Linked DNA regions of Homo sapiens: region 1 is linked to region 2. Evidence: fine-mapped expression QTL. A gene starts in region 2. The other region holds a variant in brackets. All regions are shown on one strand. Distances are from middle to middle. Region 1 holds the start of ASB6 (ankyrin repeat and SOCS box containing 6). Region 2 holds the start of C9orf50 (chromosome 9 open reading frame 50).

Region 1 (10,752 bases), 23 kb before region 2:
CGTGTGCAGATGGGCAGTGAGGCTGAGAGAGGCCCAGGCCAAAGTCCAGGCCCCAGCCTCCCTCCAGACGCAGGGCGAGACCCCCGGGGCGCTCAGCACCTTCCCACCCTGCTCTGGGCTGCTGACTTACCTCACCTGGGAGAGGCGGGGACCAGGCAGGGCCTTCCATGTGGGCATGGGGGAACAGTAGAGAAAGAGGGGTCCTGCGGCATCCCGTCCCAGGCTCTGGGCTGCCCACCTGGGGGCTTCACTGGGGCCTGGCCCCACCCTTACCTGGCTGTCACAGGCCCCGCCCTTGGACCAAGCACCAGGAACCACCTGGCAGTGTCTGTGCCGGAGTAGGGGGCTCTGGCCGGCAGGGAGGGCTTCCTGGTGGGGGCGGGTAGGGAGGGGAAAGCAAGCCCGGCCATCAGAAGCACAGAGGTCTCTGGGGCTTGTCGCCCTGGGGGTTGGGGCCCCCGAAATGCTCCTTGGTGCTTCTTAGGACAGTAAACAGAATAAGGGAGGGGACAGAAAAAGCCCTTCGCTGGCCCGGCCACTGTCCTGCCACACGGCCCCACCGCACGGCCCCTGCTCCAGCCCCTGCTACCTCAGTTTCTCCCCTGAGCAGACAGACTCTTAGGCCTCTGGGAACCCAGGAATCCAGGCCCTGCCCCTCCAGCCTGAGGACTGTGGCAGGAACAGGCAGGCTGGGCCTCCTGCAGGGACACTCTTGGGTCATGAGGGTCGGGGGTCAGGGTGGGGTCAGGGTGTGGGGGGAGGAGGAAAGGAAAGGAGCGGGGAGCCAGGCAGGAGAAGAAGGGCAGAAGGGGGGGAAGCGGAGGGCGGCACTTCCATGACCACACTTCAGAAATATGCCGGGCCCTCGTCTGTCCCGGTGCCCTGGGGACTTGCCCGGGGGCTGAAGTTGGAGGCTCTGAAATGGTCCTTGTGGTGATGTGTATGTTTCTAAATATCTCACTTTATGGAAATGCCGCCAATCAAAAAAAGAGAAGAAATAAAAGGCAGGGGTTCCCTAATTCTCCCCCTCCAGGGCCTTCTAAGGGACAGGCCTGGCAGCCGACAGCCCCTCCTGGGGAGACAGCAGGCACCGTGGAGGGCGAAGGTGCTGGGATGGGGCCAGACCACTCCTCCCTGGAGCTGCCCAGCCTGGCACGTGTGTGTGAGAGTGGTGTATGTGTGTGGTGTGAGTGGCGTATGTGTGAGTAGTGTGTGTTACAGTGGTGTATGAGTGGTGTATGTTGGTGTGTGTATGGGTGAGTGGTGTGTAAGTGGTATGTGAGTGTGAGTGGTGCGTATGAGTGAGTGGTGTGTGTGCTAGTGTGCATGAGTGATGTGTGTGCGTGAGTGGTTGTGTGTGAGTGGTGTGTGTGTGAGTGGTGTGTGTGTGAGTGGTGTGTGTGTGAGTGGTGTGTATGTGTGTGAGTGGTGTGTGTGTGTGAGTGGTGTGTGTGTGAGTGGTGTGTATGTGTGTGAGTGGCGTGTGTGAGTGGCGTGTGTGAGTGGTGTGTGTGAGTGGTGTGTGTGTGTGGTGCGTGTGAGCGTGTGTGAGTGTATTTCAGTGGTGTGTGTGTGTGGTGTGTGGGTGGTGTGTGTGGTGCGTGTGAGCGTGTGTGCGTGTATTTGAGTGGTGTGTGTGTGAGTGGTGTGTGGGGTGCATGTGAGCGTGTGGGAGTGTATTTGAGTGGTGTGTGTGCAAGTGTGAGTACGCGCTTTGTGGGGCTCCAGTAGGGGTTGGAAGCCAGGCCCTGGGTGTGAAGCCCCCTCCCTGGGCCCCTCACTCACTGACCTTGGCTTGGTCAGCCATCTCTCCTAGACTCTGACACCAGAGTCCTGGGGTCACTTCCTGGGGTGTCGCGATGAACTGATGAGACTTGTTGAGCTTCTTACTGAATGCATGGGAGTAGGACACACTCGAGCAGAGACCACAGTTGCTGCCGATTGGCCATTCCTACAGCCAGCCTGGGCGGGTGGGCGGGTGGACTCACGGCCACTCGGGAGGAAAGTGAGCGAAGCGCTAGTCCAGGTTGAGGGGACCTCAAGGGTGAGTGGCCTGCGTGCTGAGGAGGAGGCTGTCAGTCCATGGGCTGGGAGAGGGAGAAGGCTTTATGGACAGGCCTGGACCCCCTGCTGGTGTTCAGGGCCTGCCTTCAACCCCAGGAGGGGTGTCAGGGCCTGATTCTCTGCCCTGGGCTTACATAATGTTTTATTAATAAGTCTCAGGTAAGACACACTCATTGGAGAAAAAAGAGGAAATATATCCACATACAAAGAAGAGTAAAAATTCCCAGATCCCAACACCCAAAACAACCACCATTAACATCTCAGCATGGGGCGTTCAAGAATGATTCCTGCACACACACACACACACACACGTGCACACACACATTTTCCTAAATGGGACCATATGGTACCTGCTATTCTGTAATGGGCTCTGTTGGATTGTTATAGAGAAGGACCCCACGTGTTACCAGCTACCATCATTGTTGGACCGCAGGAGAGGCTGAGTGTCTATCCCTGTTTTTTGACCATTTTTCATCCTTCGTGACTTGCCTGTGCATGTCCTTTGCCCATGTTTTTATTGGTGTTTTTGCCTTCTTGTTGTTGATTTTTAGCAGCTCTTTATATATTAAGGTCATCCCCCTCTGTACATTGACGAGTCGGAGTGACTCCCAAACTCCCCGAGGACTAGGAGGCAGGGACAGGGCTGAGCTCTGGGTCCTTGTCCCCAGGACCCCCATCCTGCTGAAGATCTCTGGAGGTGGGTGGCAGGAAGGGGCTGGGCTGGCCAGGCGGTGAGTGGCAGTGACAAGGAAAAGAGAGAGAAGCGGAGAGCTGGAACCAGGGGCTCTGAGTGACAGAGCCCTAATGGGAGGCAGATGGAGGAAACAAGTCTGCCCTTGCTGACAGGAGGGAGGTCAGGGGGCACAAAGCCCTCTAAAGTTAGGAGCCTGGGCGGCGGGCAGGCAGCAGGGCCAGCCCCACAGGGTGGTGCCCCAGGGCTGTGAGAGGGCGGGGGTTAGCTCCCCCTCCTGCATGTCCAGACTCGTGAGCCCAGAGCTGGAGGAGCTGAGGACACTCGAGTCTCGGAGGCAGGAAGCGTGGAAAAGTTGCACCGACCGGGGCTGGAGGCCCAACCTCACAGTGCAGCCTGGGACAAGCGCCCAAACCTCTCTGAGCCCGTTTCTTTGTAAAATGGGGTAATAATATCACCTACTTAACAGGATTTAGGGAGATCAGTGCACCAAACATTCAGCATATCTAGTGCCTGGCATGTACAAGGGTCTCCGTAAATACAAGTGGGCTCGTGTTGTTGTTATTATAATGGCCCCCTCCTCACTCCTTCTCTGTCGGCGGAGCCCACCAGCCACGTCAAGGAGTTCGTCATTGGCTCCAAGACTGTCAGAGCTGGGAGGGCCCTCAGGTTATAGGTGAGGAAACTGAGGCCCAGAGACCAGAAGGGCCATGCCTAGGGTCACTCGTGACAGTGGGTTTATGTGTGCTCCCCAAAAAGATATGTTCCAGTCCTAGTCCTGGTGCCTGGAACGTGACCTCGTTCAGAAAAAGGGGTTTTGCAGATGTAATCAAATTAAGATGTGGCCATAATGGATTTGGGTGCGCCCTATAAATCCAGTGACCCATGCCCATTTAGAAAGGAGGGGGAAGGCTGGGCACGGTGGCTCACGCCTATAATCCCAGCACTTTGGGAGACAGAGGCGGGCGGATGACAAGGTCAAGAGATCGAGACCATCCTGGCCAACATGGTGAAACCCTGTCTCTACTAAAAATACAAAAAAAAATTAGCTGAGGGTGGTGGCACACGCGCACCACTGCACTCCAGCCTGGCGACAGTGCGAGACTCTGTCTCAAAACACAAAACAAAAAAGAAAAAGAAAAAGAAGGGAGCGGGGGATTTGGACAGTGGCATAGACAGCAGGAAGAAGGCTGTGTGGAGACAGAGGAAGGTGGACACTGGGGTGCTGCTGTCCCAAGCCGAGGTACCCCTGTGGTCACCAGGAGTGGGAGAGGCAAGAAAGGGACCTTCTCTGGAGTCTTTGGAGGGAGCGTGGCCCTGCCCACACCTTGAATTTGACCTTTCCGCCTCCAGAACTGTAAAGGAGTGAATTTCTGTTGTTTTAAGCCATCAGGTCTGCAGCACCTTGTTATAGCAGCCCTAGGGCAAAAGCAGGGCTCAGACGAAGTCAGCCCACCCAGCTCCACCGGGACCCCACGGGACTGCACCTCCCGCAGTTACTCACCATGCGCCCTTGGGTAAGTCAGGCCTCCGTCTCCTGAGGGTTGAGGGCCAAAGGCCATCACATAGGTGAGGAGACCGAGGCCTGACTCAACACGGGCATGGTGTCACGTGATCAAATGTGTTGTGTGATCAAACGAGAGAGGGGCTGTGAAGACCTGGGTCGCCTGAGAGCGGCTGTACCGTTCAGGGCCTCGCGATCCATTGAGGGGGACCCTTCAAGCAGGGGCAGACACTTCCAAACGCTCAGAGTCATGCCCAGGCAGGTGCACCCAGGGCAAGCACCCCATCTGGATGCAAATCGCTGTCTGGTAAGAATCTGGGCCCTTCTGATTTTTACAAGGCAAGTTGGAAAATCTCCATTTCCCTGGGAGCAAAATGTCCCGATTTCCCTCAGGAAGATACTTCTTTCCCTCAGCAAGAATCAAGGCAGACATGTGTGGGGAGCCGTGGGCCCTCGTAGTCTGCAGTTGCTTCTGGGACGCCCAAGCTAGTGTTGCCTTAAAGGGTCTTGAACCCAGCTGCCCACCCCCACCCCTCCTTCCTACTCCTTTAGGTAATGGAAGAGGAAGCAAACTGAGGCACTCTGAATGCCTGGCGTCGGAGG[T/C]GGTTTTCCGAGAGCCTGTCATTGGATCTGACAACAGCTTTAACAACCAGAGCCAGCAGTTACCAGCCGCTGCTGCCACACCCTCAACCTTGCCGGTTGAGGCTCGTTGCTTTGGGTTTTCTTGTACAGTTTGTTTTGCACATGGTAGAGGGCCTTACTCTGCCCATTTAAAAATGTTTCATCTGGCTGGGCGTGGTGGGCTCACGTCTGTAAGCCCAGTACTTTGGGAGGCTGAGGCGGGTGGATCACCTGAGGTCAGGAGTTCGAGAATAGCCTGGCCAACATGGTGAAACCCCGTCTCTACTAAAAATACAAAAATTAGCCTGGCGTGGTAGCGCATGCCTGTAATTCCAGCTACCTGGTAGGCTTGAACCCAGGGGTTGGAGGTTGCAGTGAGCCGAGATCCTGCCACTGCACTCCAGCTTAGGCAACAGAGTGAGACTCCGTCTGAAAAATAATAATAATAATAATAATAAATAAATAAATATAAAAATGTTTACTCTAAGACCCATCGGATTGTCTTGAAATGCGCCTTTAAATGTTTTTTTCCTGGGCTGGGCAACTCTCGCTGTCTGGCAGGTTCCAGGGAGAGGGGCCCAACTTGGCAGAGCAAGGCCCAGGAGGCCAACGCTGTGATGTGGACTGCTGGGGCGGGAAACCCCTCTTCATCATCAGCTTCCCAGAAGCAAGAAGGCATCAAGGCCCCCCCACGCAGACTCCAGGTGGGAGAGGAGGCTCAAATGCATGGCCCAAGGGGAGGTGCCTCGACTCCAGAAAAGTGGTTTTTCCAAGGCAAGCTGGAAATGTCCATTTCCATGTGAGCAGAATTTCCCGATTTCACCCAGGGAGAAATTTCTTTCCTACAGCGAGAACCAAGGCAGAAACGTGCTGGCAGCTGTGGACTCTGCGGCCTGGAGCTGCTTCTAGGAAGCCCAAGCTGGTGTTGCCCTAAAGGGGCTTAAACCCGGCTGCCCACTCCGCCCCTTCTTCCTGAACCAGAGGGTTTTGGCTCCTTCCCACTGAATTCCACTTCCACCAACAATTACAGTGCGCTGGCTCCAGCATCTCAGGTGAGTGTGATTATACTTTTTTTTTTTCTTTTTGAGACAGAGTTTCGTTCTTATTGCCCAGGCTGGAGTGTGATGGTGCGATCTCCACTCACTGCAACCTCCGCCTCCCGGGTTCAAGCAATTCTCCTGCCTCAGCCTCCCAAGTAGCTGGGATTACAGGCGCCTGCCACCACGCCCGGGTAATTTTTGTATTTTTAGTAGAGACAGGGTTTCATCATATTGGCCAGGCCGGTCTGCAGCTTCGAACTTCTGACCTCAGGTGATCCACCTGCCTCGGCCTCTCAAAGTGCTGGGGATTCTACCCATTTTACAGATGAGGAAATCCAAGTTCAGAGACAGGCGGTAGCACACTCCTGTGTTCCCAGCTTCTCGGGAGGCTGAGGCGGGAGGATCACCTGAGCCCAGGGGTTCAAAGCTGCAGTGAGTCATGATCACTACACTACACTCCAGCCTGGGAGACAGAGTGAGACCCTGTCTCTAAAAAATACACAAGATTCGGGCTGGGCACCGTGGCTCATGCCTGTAATCCCAGCACTTTGGGAGGCCGAGGTGGGAGGATCACGAGGTCAGGAGTTCGAGACCAGCCTGGCCAATATGGTGAAACCCTGTCTCTACTAAAAATACAAGAATAAGCTGGGCGTGGTGGCCAGCGCCTGTAATCCCAGCTACTCGGGAGGCTGAGGCAGGAGAATCGCTTGAACCCGGGAGGCGGAGGTTGCAGTGAGCCGAGATCGTGCCATTGCACTCCAGCCTGGGCAACAGAGCGAGACTACGTCCCCCAAAAAAACAAAAACAACAACAACAAAAAACAAGATTCACTGAGTCCATCAAGGCAGAGGTGGAGAGGGCTAGCAGCCGTCCTGGCCAGGTGCTCCCCGGGACAGAGAATAAGAAACTGAGGAGGGGACGTGCGAGTACCCTGGTCCTCATCATTCCAGTCAGCGGGCCGGGTGGTGACAGAGGTGGCCCAGCCCCTCTTCAGGGAAGGCGAGGGCCAGCCCGAACCGGAAGGGGCAGTGTCTGATGACCACAGCTCTCAGGGGCGCCCAGGGCCAGTGGGGCAGCGGCAGGGCCGAGAGCACGACCGGCGGAACTCGGACGGCGCCCAGCGGTCGCGGGCGGGATCGCAGGGCGAAGCCGAGCCGGGCCGGGCCCTGGCAGGAAGGGGCGGACCCGCCTGAGTCTCGGATCTGGCTTGGCTCGATCCTCCACTCTCCCACTCCGCTGGGGCCGCCCACTGGACATCGCCCGAGTCGGCCTGGCGGTCGTGCCCCAGGACGCGCCGAGGTCCTCCGAGCCCGCAGGGGGCGCTGTCGCCATATGGCCCACCCTGAGTCGGCGCGGGCAGGAAGTACGAGGGTCACTTCCGGCGGGGGCGCGGCTTGGACTGAGGAGCGGACCCGGCCGGGCGCAGGGGCTGGACTGGCGGAGCAGGTGGGGTCCGCGGCCGCCGGAGCGTTCCGGTCGGCGTCTGGGCATCTCGGCCTCGGCAGAAAGCGCGACGGCCCTGCTGCGCGGGGCCCGCGGCGATGCCGTTCCTGCACGGCTTCCGGAGGATCATCTTCGAGTACCAGCCGCTGGTGGATGCGATTCTGGGCTCCCTGGGGATCCAGGACCCCGAGCGGCAGGAGTCTCTGGACCGGTAACTCACCCCCTCCCGTGAGCTGGCCGAGGCCGCTCCGACCCCGCAGCGTCCCACTTTATCACCACAAGCCGGGCGGGGTGGATGCGTCCCCCTTGACAGAGGAAGGGACGGGCGGAAGCCGGGGTTGCGTGGCTCGGAGTGCGCGCTGCCCCGCGCGGATCCCACTCCTGCCCCTTGCATGGCGGAGACGAAGGGCGGGGAGGGCCCGAGGGCGGAGGCCCGCGGGTTGTCGCAGGGCCTGCGCCTCAGCCCCACCCTGTCGCCTGCCTGTCCTGTGCCACCCCCCGGCGTGGCAGAGGAGCAGGGTGGAATCCGTGAGGCCTCAGATGTTACCCCAGAGCAGTGTGAAGGTGGGCTTTTGTAGCAGAGTTTGCGTTTTTATAGACAAGAGCTGGTCTGTCGTGGACCTGCAGGAAAGGGGTCGGGAGCGAATCTGCATTCACTGCCCATGGTACTAGGCACCTGGGGTCCATCAGTGGCTCAGCAAAACCCCCGCCTTCTTGGCGCATGTGCTCCAGAGGAGAGACTGACAAGTAATTGTACGGCGGCACGCGAGGTGGAAGGGAGGGGAGAGCAGAAGGAAGGGGCTCGGCTCAGGTGTTGAGGGGGTTGTCAGTTGGTATTTCCAACACGTGGTAATGATGAGTCTCGCCATCCAGGGACTCTGGTGGAAACGTAGGCTTTCTTCATCAATATCAGCTGAAGGTCTCAATGTGAGGGGAGGGAGGAGGCTGTGTTGCTGTCCTGGCTGCAGGTGTTGCCGGGGCTGGGGTCCTGCGGGTTTGAGGATGGAAGGGCTTTCTGAGGAAGAAGCATCAAAGTCGGGCTTGGGCTCTTGGCCTCCAGGCTGGTGGTCCCTTCAGTCCCAGCAGCCCAGGTGTGTGAGGCTTTGTACCTAAGTCTGCGACCGGACTCTGGGCAACGCGGGAGGAGAGCGCAGACAGACCCAGCCCATTCTCCGCAAATCCCAGTCTGCTCCCGTATTAAGAGATGCAGCGTGGCCCTCTCTCTACTTCAGAGCTTCCCCCAAGCCCCTGTGACCCACAGAGCCAGGGCCCTGCTTGCTGATGATGATAGCAGGACTAAAGCCCACCAACCCACAGGCTGCGCGGTCACCCGGTCCCACAGCTGTGCCTACCCTCAGCCTCTCTCCTGTCCCAGGCCCAGTTATGTCGCCAGCGAGGAGAGCCGAATCCTTGTTCTCACTGAGCTGCTGGAGAGGAAAGCCCACTCTCCCTTTTACCAGGAAGGCGTGAGCAACGCCCTGCTCAAGATGGCTGAGCTGGGGCTGACGCGGGCGGCCGACGTTCTCTTGCGGCATGGGGCCAATCTCAACTTTGAAGGTCAGCGAGAGCCCCGGGGGTGGGCAGGTGGCTTAAACGCGGCCCGACGCTGGGTGGGCGCCCATGTCCCCAGCCTTGGCTTCTACCATCCTCTGAGGAGTGACTTCCCCCCCTTTATTTCCTGGGTGGCTGCAACTAAGGAAACTCCCATTGGGTGGCCTCCCACCCCCTGCGGGTTTTCACATGGCTCTTCCCACCTCTGTTCCAAGAGCGAGTGTTGCTGCTTCTACCATGTGATTGATTAGCAAACTTTCCCCAGCTCCCAGATTAATCCCCACTTCCATTAATGCAAAAATGCGGCTGCTGGCACTGTGCCCAGAGCTAAGGGAAGGTAATTTTCTGCTACTTACTCTGAGCCAATTTGTTTTTTTTTTTCTCATGCCGTAGGGAGAGGGGAAAACAGGCTGCATTAGGCATAAATCACCACAGGACACCCTGGCTCCTGGCTCCTGAGTGCCAGGGATGGAGATGGAGCCGAGCTCCTTTCTCTGTGTTTTTCAGCCCAGGGAGGGCAGGGTTAGTCGGCAGACAGGCAGGGCTGCCTTGTGACCTAATAGGGGCCTGAGACAGCCAGGCACGTCTCCTTTCCCCATCCGAAGACGGGCTTGGAGTCTGCTGGGCTCCTGGAGGGTCAAGGAGCTGAGACGGGAGGGCCGGTTCTGAAGCCAGTGACTTGGAGACCAGCTTGGAGAACCTGGCTGTTACCACCAGGCCTACAAAGCAGAGCCGCCAGAGCTGCTGTGTAGCGCGGCCTCCCAGCCATTCTGAGAGGGTGCGCCCCGTTTTATGGTCCCTTCTTACAGAAGAGGAAACTAAAGCCCCCAACAGCTTCAGTAGCGTGCCCACTAGAACACCCCGAGGGCCCTCTAGTATCTGGTGAGGACAGCTCTGTCCTAACCCTTGATGGTGACAGGAGGCTGGGCCTGTGCTTCTGGACACTTTAGGTGGGAGTTTGGGGCTGGGCTCTGGGTCCGGGGGCCCCATAAGAATGCGGACAGATAGGACCCACATGAGCTGTGTCTGCACCTTCAGACCCAGTCACCTACTACACGGCCTTGCACATCGCCGTCCTGCGGAACCAGCCGGACATGGTGGAGCTGCTGGTGCATCACGGGGCCGACGTTAATCGGAGGGACCGGGTAAGTGCCAGGTCCAGCTTGCTTTGAAGCAGGGTTGGGCAGGGGCCTGAGCAGCTTCCCAAGCCAACCTGGCTGTGCTTCCTTGGCTCAGATCCACGAGAGTAGCCCCTTGGACCTGGCCAGCGAGGAGCCTGAGCGCCTGCCCTGCCTGCAGCGCCTCCTGGACCTTGGAGCTGATGTCAATGCCGCTGACAAGCATGGTGGGTGCCTCCTGCAGGAAAGCAGGACAGCTGGGCCCCCAGGCACCTTGTGGGGGACACCCAGGGTGCCCCAGGACAACAGCTAGGTGGGCAGACTGGATGCTGGCCCTGGCTGGTGGCACAGCATGGCTGGGCACACAGGGATTCTGCTGACTTGCTGAGCTCAGAGGCTTCAGAGAGGCAGTGCAGTCATTGTCCCTGTGCTGGCCCTCAAGGGCCTTCTATAGGAAGAAATAGGGCATGTGTGCACTTAGTTTCCAAGAAACAATGGCTTCCCATTGGGAGAGGCCCAGCCAACATCTCAGGTAGCATCTTGGGGTCCAGAAAAATCCTACCTTTCCTGGCCTTTCCGCTCCCACTTCTCTGGGTGGAAAGGGAATGGCCAGAAGCCTGTCACCCTCAGCCCTCACCTGAGCTGAGAGTTGTCTCTGAAAGTTCATCTTCTGATCCTCTGAGTGTCTGGATTTCTGCCACCTCCTCTGGGTTGCCCTGA
Region 2 (8,000 bases):
CAAAGAAATTCTGGAGCTATCTCCGAGGCAGCGGTGATGGAAACGGGAGCTTGCAGGTGGGTAGAGCCTGTTAACATTTCCGAGCTTCAGTCTCCTGTCAGAAGAGGAAGTTGAGCAACGTAATAATTACTCAACTTCTGATGCTCTGAGAGGGTTAAACTTGTGGGACATTGCACGTCAGACCTTCAGCTCAGCACCTGCAGTGGGTTCTCAGGAAATGGAAGCTGTTATAATGACAATATCCATCTTAAGTTCATTTTTCCTATACTATTAATAATATCCTTGTGTTGGCAGGGCACGGTGGTGCACGACTCTAATCCCAGCATTTTGGGAGGCCAAGGCAGGCGGATCACCTGAGGTCAGGAATTTGAGACCAGCCTGGCCAACATGGCAAAACCCCGTCTCTACTAAAAATACAAAATTAGCCAGGGATGGTGGTGCATGCCTGTAGTCCCAGCTACTCTGAGGCTGAGGCAGGAGAATAGCCTGAACCTAGGAGGCAGAAGTTGCAATGAGCCTAGATCGCGCCATTGCTTTCCAGCCTGGGTGACAAGAACGAAACTCTGTCTCAAAAATAAAATAATAATAATACTATCCTGGTGTTCCTTCCTCTGGGCGACGCACACAGAAGGTGCTTAAAGTGTGTTTGCTCTAAATGTGTTGAAAGCTACGGTAGAAAGGGGATGCTAAAAAGCCCCTTCTGCATTGAGTCCGCAGGATGTGTGTATGTGCATCTTATTTGGCATACCCTCTAGACTATTCTAGGTCACAACTGCTACCCCTGGTCTGAGCCCCTCTCCCAAGCTTCATTTTCTGTGTCTTTAAGCAAAGGGATTGATCCTGGGCAATTTCAATCGGTGGGGGTGTCCGGAATCCTCCGCCAGGGGGCAGCTCTGATCCAAGCTCTCTGTATGCCTAAAAATCCAGCCCTGTCTTATTTCCTGTCAACAGAAGAGCAAGCCCCTTCCCCACAGCCACGCTCCAAGGCCTTCCCAGGACTGGCCGGCTCCCTGACCTCAAAGCCTCTGGCATCTCTGAATTCCCAAGCCTAGCACATAGTAGTTCCTTGATAAATATTTGCAGAGTGCAAGGGCTGGAGGGCTCCTTAGAAACCATCTAGTTAGGCCAGGCGCAGTGGCTCACGCCTGTAATCTCAGCACTTTGGGAGGCCGAGGCAGGTGGATCACAAGGGCAGGAGATCGAGACCATCCTGGCTAACACGGTGAAACCCCGTCTCTACTAAAAATACAAAAAAATTAGCCGGGCGTGGTGGTGGGCACCTGTAATCCCAGCTACTCGGGAGGCTGAGGCAGGAGAATGGGGTGAACCCAGGATGCGGAGCTTGCAGTGAGCTGAGATCGCGACTCCGTCTCCAAAAAAAAAAAAAAGAAAAGAAAAGAAAAAAAGAAACCGTCTAGTTAATCTGGTGTTTCGCAGCCATTAAAAAAGACACATACCCTTTAAATAAATACAAAAATATCTCCCTCCCCCACTCAATATTGTAGCTCTCCAGGAAAGTATGTCCCTCCATCCCTGGTGAGAAGCATTGACAGAAAATAGAATATATCTTTGGCGACGCGTTCTCTAGTGAGTCACTCTGTTATTTGAATTACAAAGTCGTTTCTTCATTTTCAAATTATGAAACTATGCCACGCCAGTGAAATACTCATGTAAATGACCTCTGTCTCCCACCCCAGCTTCACAATACTATGAGCTTCCTCTCGGCCCTCTCCCAGCCAAGACTCAGAGATAAGGCCCAGGGAGTCCTGAGAAAGAAGACACTTCTCCAGGATCACACAGCAAAACAGCAGACCATGGACTTGAAAGTGGGTCTGTTAATTTCTTTTCTTCCTTCCTTCCTTCCTTCCTTCTTTTTTTTTTTTTGAGATGGAATCTTGCTCTGTCGCCCAGGCTGGAGTGCAGTGGCGCGATCTCCGCTCACTGCAAGCTCCGCCTCCTGGGTTCACGCCATTCTCCTGCCTCAGCCTCCCGCGTAGCTGGGATTACAGGTACCCGTCACCACAACCAGCTAATTTTTTGTATTTTTAGTAGAGACAGGGTTTCACCGTGTTAGCCAGGATGGTCTCGATCTCCTGACCTCATGATCCACCCGCCTTGTCCTCTCAAAGTGCTGGGATTACAGGCGTGAGCCACCGTGCCCGGCTCTTTCTTTCTTTTTTTTTTTATGGAGATGGAGTCTCACTCTGTTGCCCAGGCTGGAGTGCAGTGGCGTGATCTCGGCTCACTGCAACCTCCGCCTCCCGGGTTCAAGCAATTCTCCTACCTCAGCCCCCCAAGTAGCTGGGACTACAGGCACACGCTGTCACGCCCGGCTAATTTTTTTGTATTTTAGTAGAGACGGGGTTTCACCATGTGGCCCAGGCTGATTGCGAACTCCTGAGCTCAGGCAATCCACCTGCCTCGGTCTCCCAAAGTGTTAGGATTACAGGTATGAGCCACTGGAACCTGGCCTCTTTTTTTTTTGTGAGACAGAGTCTCAAATGATCTGTGTAACGGATTAGAGTTGGAGATGTCAGCATGAGCTCATGTTTAGCTTAATATAAGTACAGATGGTTACCTATAGAAATATTTATAGATATGTGTGTGTTTCATAGTATACACACACATTTCTTTGTCAGCTGAGACTGCCTGAAAGAAATGACATCTCAATAGCAAGAAGCACACCTAGCACCCAGACCTTGGATTATTATTATTATTATTTTTGAGATGGAGTCTCGCTTTGTCACCCAGGCTGGAGTGCAGTGGCATGATCTCAGCTCACTGCAACCTCCGCCTCCCAGGGTCAAGCGATTCTCCTGTCTCAGCCTCCCAAGTAGCTGGGATTATAGGTGCACAACACCATGCATGGCAAATTTTGGTATTTTTTGTAGAGACGAGGTTTCACCATGTTGGCCAGGCTGGTATTGAACTTCTGACCTCAGGTGATCCGCCCGCCTCGGCCTCCCAAAGTGCTGGGATTACAGGCGTGAGACACCGTGCCCCGCAGGGTCTGTTCATTTCTAGGTCCATTGTATTCTGACTGCCTGGTCTTGGGGTGGAAGTTCTACTTCCAGAGCCACCCAGCCTAAGCCTCCCAGATCTGGAAAGGGTAGGCCTGGCTGCCCTGGTCAGAGTCCCAGTGCCCCAGGTGGCTGCGGCCAGGGCATCCAGGGCACAATAGCCCCACCCTTAGTCCCCAGGCCTCAGTGCCCACTGCTACTCAGATGCCCAGGGGTGAGGGGCGGATCACAATGACCCTGAAGCGGCCCAGAGGCAGCCGGGAGGGGCTGGGAGAGGCACCAGGCAGGGATGATGGGCTCTACAGCCTGCCTGTAGAGAGCTCTAAACTCACAGGACCTTCTAGGGCCCCACCCAGAAGCCCACCAGGGTGAGTGTGACACTGCCCAGGAGTCAGCTCAGAGCTGACAACAATCTGGGAGTGGGGTGTGGTTGGGAGGAAGCAGGCTTAGAAACCCCTCAGTGTCAGAGCTGGGAGTAAGACTGGGGCTCTGCCTCCCAAAGGGGGAGTTTGTTAAAAGTCTGTGTCTTGGCCAGAAGTGGGGACTCACGCCTGTGATCCCAGCACTTTGGGAGGCCAAGGCAAGTGGATCACTTGAGCCCAGGAGTTCAAGACCAGCCCGTGCAACATAAATACAAAAAAATTCTACCCCATTTCTACAAAATATACAAAAATTAGCCAACTGTGGTGGTGTGTGCCTGTAGTCCCAGCTACTCAGGAGGCTGAGGCAGGAGGATCACTTGAGCCCAAGAATTTGAGGCTGCAGTGAGCTATGATGGTGCCATTGCACTCCAGCCTGGGTGACAGCAGGACCCCGTCTTAGCAAGACCCCATCTCTTTAACAACAACAACAAGAACAACAAACTGTCTTGGCTCCAGCAGAGACGTACTGAATCAGAATGGGGGCTGGGGGTAAGTCATCTGTATTTTCAACAGGCTCCCCACCCAGGGGTCTCTGAGGCAGCACCAGGGCTGGGAGGCTGCTGGTCAGGTCTCTCTTCCCTCAAGCTGGTTCCAGGTTTCCTAATTCCCAGTAGAGCGCTAATGACGGTAACAGTTCCACGCTTTGAACACTGCAAGGCAGGCTAAGTGCTCTCTCTACCAGCGGTGATGCGGTGATGCCGTTTCACGGCTGCAGAGAGGCAGGTGCTGCTATTATCCCCATTCTGCAGACCAGAGCCCCCAGGGAAGGCAGAGGGAAGTTAATTGGCTTGGCCAAGGTTACAAAGCTAATAAGTGGTGGAGCTGGGACTAAATCCTAAATAATAATAACTTTGAAATACTAAGAATGGCAGCTAGTCTATGTGTAAGCTTGGCCAGCGTGCCTGGCACTGTACCGAGCTTGCTGTTCTAAGACTGGCATGTACTTGCTCATTTAAACGTCACAGCAACCCCCAAAGTTGGCTACTCTTGCTGTCACCATTTTTCAGGTGAGGAAACAGAGGCTCTGGGAGCTCTCGCCTGAAGCCACTCGCTGTCCGCCGGGCCGGTGGCGTTCACCCCGCACCGCGCTGCCCCGCCCGGGGCACTATGGCCTGGGGCTGGACTATGCCCTCCCCACCTCAGCCGGCGCCCCCCACCCACGCGCGCTGAGGGTGCGGTGAGCTGAGTGCGGGGCCAAGCATGTTCTGGCGTCGACTTCGCCCAGGGGCCCAGGACCTGGCGCCCAAGGGGCTCCCTGGCGACGGAGACTTCCGACGCAGCAGCGACCCGCGGCTGCCCAAGCTGACCCCGCCCGCGCTCCGAGCGGCTCTGGGCGCGCGGGGCTCCGGGGACTGGAGGATCCCGGGGGGCGGCGCCGCGTGGTGGCCGGAAGGGGACGCCAAGCCCGGGGTGGGCGTCGGACGCCTCCCGCCGCGCCTGCCCGCCTTGCTCACCGCGACCCGGCGGGCCGTGCGGAAGCGGGGGCTGCTGCGGTCCCTGCTGCCGCCTCCCCTGCTGTCGGCCGGCGCGTCCCGGGAATCGGCGCCCAGGCAGCCAGGGCCTGGAGAGCGCGAGCGCCCCCGGAGGCGCGTGGCCAGGGAGGACCCCGACTTCTTGGGCGCCTTCCTAGGAGAGCTCCTCCCCAGCAGGTTCCGTGAGTTCCTGCACCAGCTCCAGGAGAAGTGCGCCGAGGAGCCGGAGCCACTGAGTGAGGCCCCGCGGGGCCCGGGGGGCGGGCCCGAGTCATTTCCGGTGGGGGGTGGTCCCTTGTGTCCCCGCACCCACCACCCCACCACCCAGGCTAGAAGGATGCTAATGTTAGCTGAGTATCTCAGAGCCCTCGCAACCCGTCCTTGAGGGCTGGTCTGCCATCACCCCGAGGCCACATGACTAGAAAGGACCGTCCCCCAGCCAAGGCTCACAACTGTTTCCTCCTGGCTCCAGCATCCCCAGCACCGCAACATCAAAGGGGTGTATTAGAGCACTGCCCAGGGTCTCCGCGGTGTCCCAACTGTTCATTCCTCCCAGACCTGTGGTAAGCGTCAGTCCGCTTCTTGGTGGGGACGGGGTTGCCATCGATGTTTCCAGGGCGGGACAGCCTGGCCACTCATGCCAGATGTGGCCTGTTTGTCTTTAAGGGGCCAGTCATCGCACCTCCAGGATAGTCTTACGAAGATTTCGCTCCAGCAGACACCTATTCTGGGGCCCCTGAAGGGTGATCACTCACAATTCACCACTGTCAGAAAGGCCAACCAGTGAGTGATGGGCGGGATAAGGGTAGGGTAGTGGAGGAAAGGGGCATTTCTTTCCTTCTTTCTTTCCTCTTTCGCCCATGAATGTATTCATTTATCCACCTATCTACCCATTCATCCATCCTTACATATGGCTGTCCGTGAATCAGATCTTCTACCAACCCATTCAAGATTCATTCGCCAGTTCATCAATGAATCAACCCATCCATTAATGAGGTCTTCTACCAACACATAATTCATCCATGAATCTATTCATATATTCATTTTCCCATTCACCCATCCATCTTTGCATCCATCTCATCCATGAACCAAGTCTTCTACAACCCGTTCATGAATCTCTCCATCTATCCATCCATCCTTCTGTCCACCCATTAATCTATCATGGACCCATGACTCCATCCATCCATACATTCACTCACCCACCCACCCATGAATCAGGTGTCCTGTGGATCCATTCATCTACCTGGCCAACCAGCTAGCCAGTCATCCATCTAAAACTCCCACACTTCGGCAGGGCACGGTGGCTCACACCTGTAATCCCAGCACTTTGGGAGGCTGAGGTGGGCGGATCACGAGGTTAGGAGATTGAGACCACCCTGGATAACACGGTGAAACCCCGTCTCTACTAAAAATATACAAAAAAAAAAAAAAAAACACAAAAAATTAGCCGGGCGTGGTGGCGGGCGCCTGTAGTCCCAGCTACTCGGGAGGCTGAGGCGAGAGAATGGTGTGAACCCGGGAGGCGGAGCTTGCAGTGAGCTGAGATTGTGCCATTGCACTCCAGCCTGGGTGACAGAGTGAGACTCCATCTCAAATAAAAATGAAATAAAATAAAATAAAATAAATAAAAAATAAAACTCCCACACTTCTATCCATCCATCCATTGATCCAATGACCAACCATCTACAAATCCTTCCATCCACTTGTAAACCCAGGACACTGTCCATCGCTAATCTAGTCATAAAGCCATCCACAAACCTACATACCCATCTACATAATCATCCAGCCACGCATCTGTCCATCTACCCATACATTCATAGTTCAGTTCTATTCAGACCCTTTCATTAACTCACCCATCAGTCCATCCACCCATCAACCCACCCACCCAGTCTTCCATCATTTTACCCATCCCACCATCATTTGTCCATTTCTTACTCTAACTTTTATTAGGTTTTACTATATGTTGAATATTGGGAGAAAACTAAGGGATGGAGGTAAGAGAAGAGCCTAGGAATTGGAACCTACCTGGGCCTAGACACCATAGTTTTAACAGAGGAGGAAAAGAAGACAGAAACAGTTCCTCCAGGTTAAAATTCCTCCAGGCTTAAGCAGGGGTGAAGGGTGAATGGCACTGCCCATGAGTTTAAAGACCAGGGAGAGTAAATACATCACAAACATATCATTCTTCCTCATCTCATACCCACAGCAGACAAAACTAATGGATCATATTTCCCCACTGAGCCTCAGAACCATTCCTCACACAGTACTCTAGGTAGATACTCCTGATGGATCAGGGTAGGAACTAGAAATGGAACACATGGCCAAGCATGGTGGCTCATGCCTATAATCCCAGTGCTTTGGGAGGCTGAGGCAGGAGGATCGCTTGAGCCCAGGAGTTTGAGACCAGCCTTGGTAACATGGTGAAACCCTGTCTCTACAAAAATTACAAAAATTAGCTGGGCGTGGTGGTGCATGCCTGTGGTTCCAGCTACTCGGGAGGCTGAGGTGGGAGGATTGCTTGAGCCTGGGAGGTTGAGGCTGCAGTGAGCCAAGATCGTGCCACTGCACTCCAGCCTGGGTGACAGAGCAAGACCCTGTCTCAAAAAACAAACAAACAAACAAAAACAGTGAAACACATTTACCAACCTCAGAACGTTCAACCAATCAGGCCAAATATACACATGACTTCTCACAAGATACAAATAAATAAAAGTATGGAATTCATTCTCTCAAATGTGAGCAAAAGCAGAGACAAACACAGTTACAGACTTTCACATTCAAGAGCAAATACTTGAGCACCTTACTGTGTGTGAGATTCCCTGGTAGGCCCTGCAGGGGACACTGTGGTGCCTCAGAACAGGCTCCAGTGGCCCTCGAGTGAAGATGCTGAGATTTCAGGCAGGTGGGCAGAGCTGGGTTATGCCTTTGCCTGGCCCAGCAGCCAGCAGAGAGCAGGGGTTCCTGAGCAGACAACTGTTAGATGACTAGGTCCCAAGGCATGTAGCCAGGCACTGTCCTGACACCTCCCAACTGCTTGGCTCTTTGGAGGCTGATGAAAAGCATTCCCTCTGCATCTACACAGACAT

Evidence for each region.
Region 1: its variant is fine-mapped to the expression of C9orf50 in thyroid (GTEx, PIP above 0.99).

Annotation. Positions count from the first base shown.
Region 1 is chr9:129,638,709-129,649,460 of GRCh38, reverse strand. ASB6 (ankyrin repeat and SOCS box containing 6) reads left to right here and starts at 7,310. Exons shown (of 6, transcript NM_017873.4): 1 at 7,310-7,574; 2 at 8,739-8,920; 3 at 9,953-10,059; 4 at 10,151-10,259. The coding sequence starts at 7,462. RefSeq lists enhancers at 1,328-2,076, 8,250-8,806, 8,807-9,364 and a silencer at 6,944-7,543. The variant T/C (reference allele first, on the strand shown) is at 4,863.
Region 2 is chr9:129,617,217-129,625,216 of GRCh38, reverse strand. It overlaps C9orf50 (chromosome 9 open reading frame 50), which reads left to right and starts at 4,116. Exons shown (of 7, transcript NM_199350.4): 1 at 4,116-5,150; 2 at 5,387-5,477; 3 at 5,581-5,697. The coding sequence starts at 4,643. It also overlaps a transcript of NTMT1 not described here. RefSeq lists enhancers at 934-983, 994-1,133, 4,004-4,654.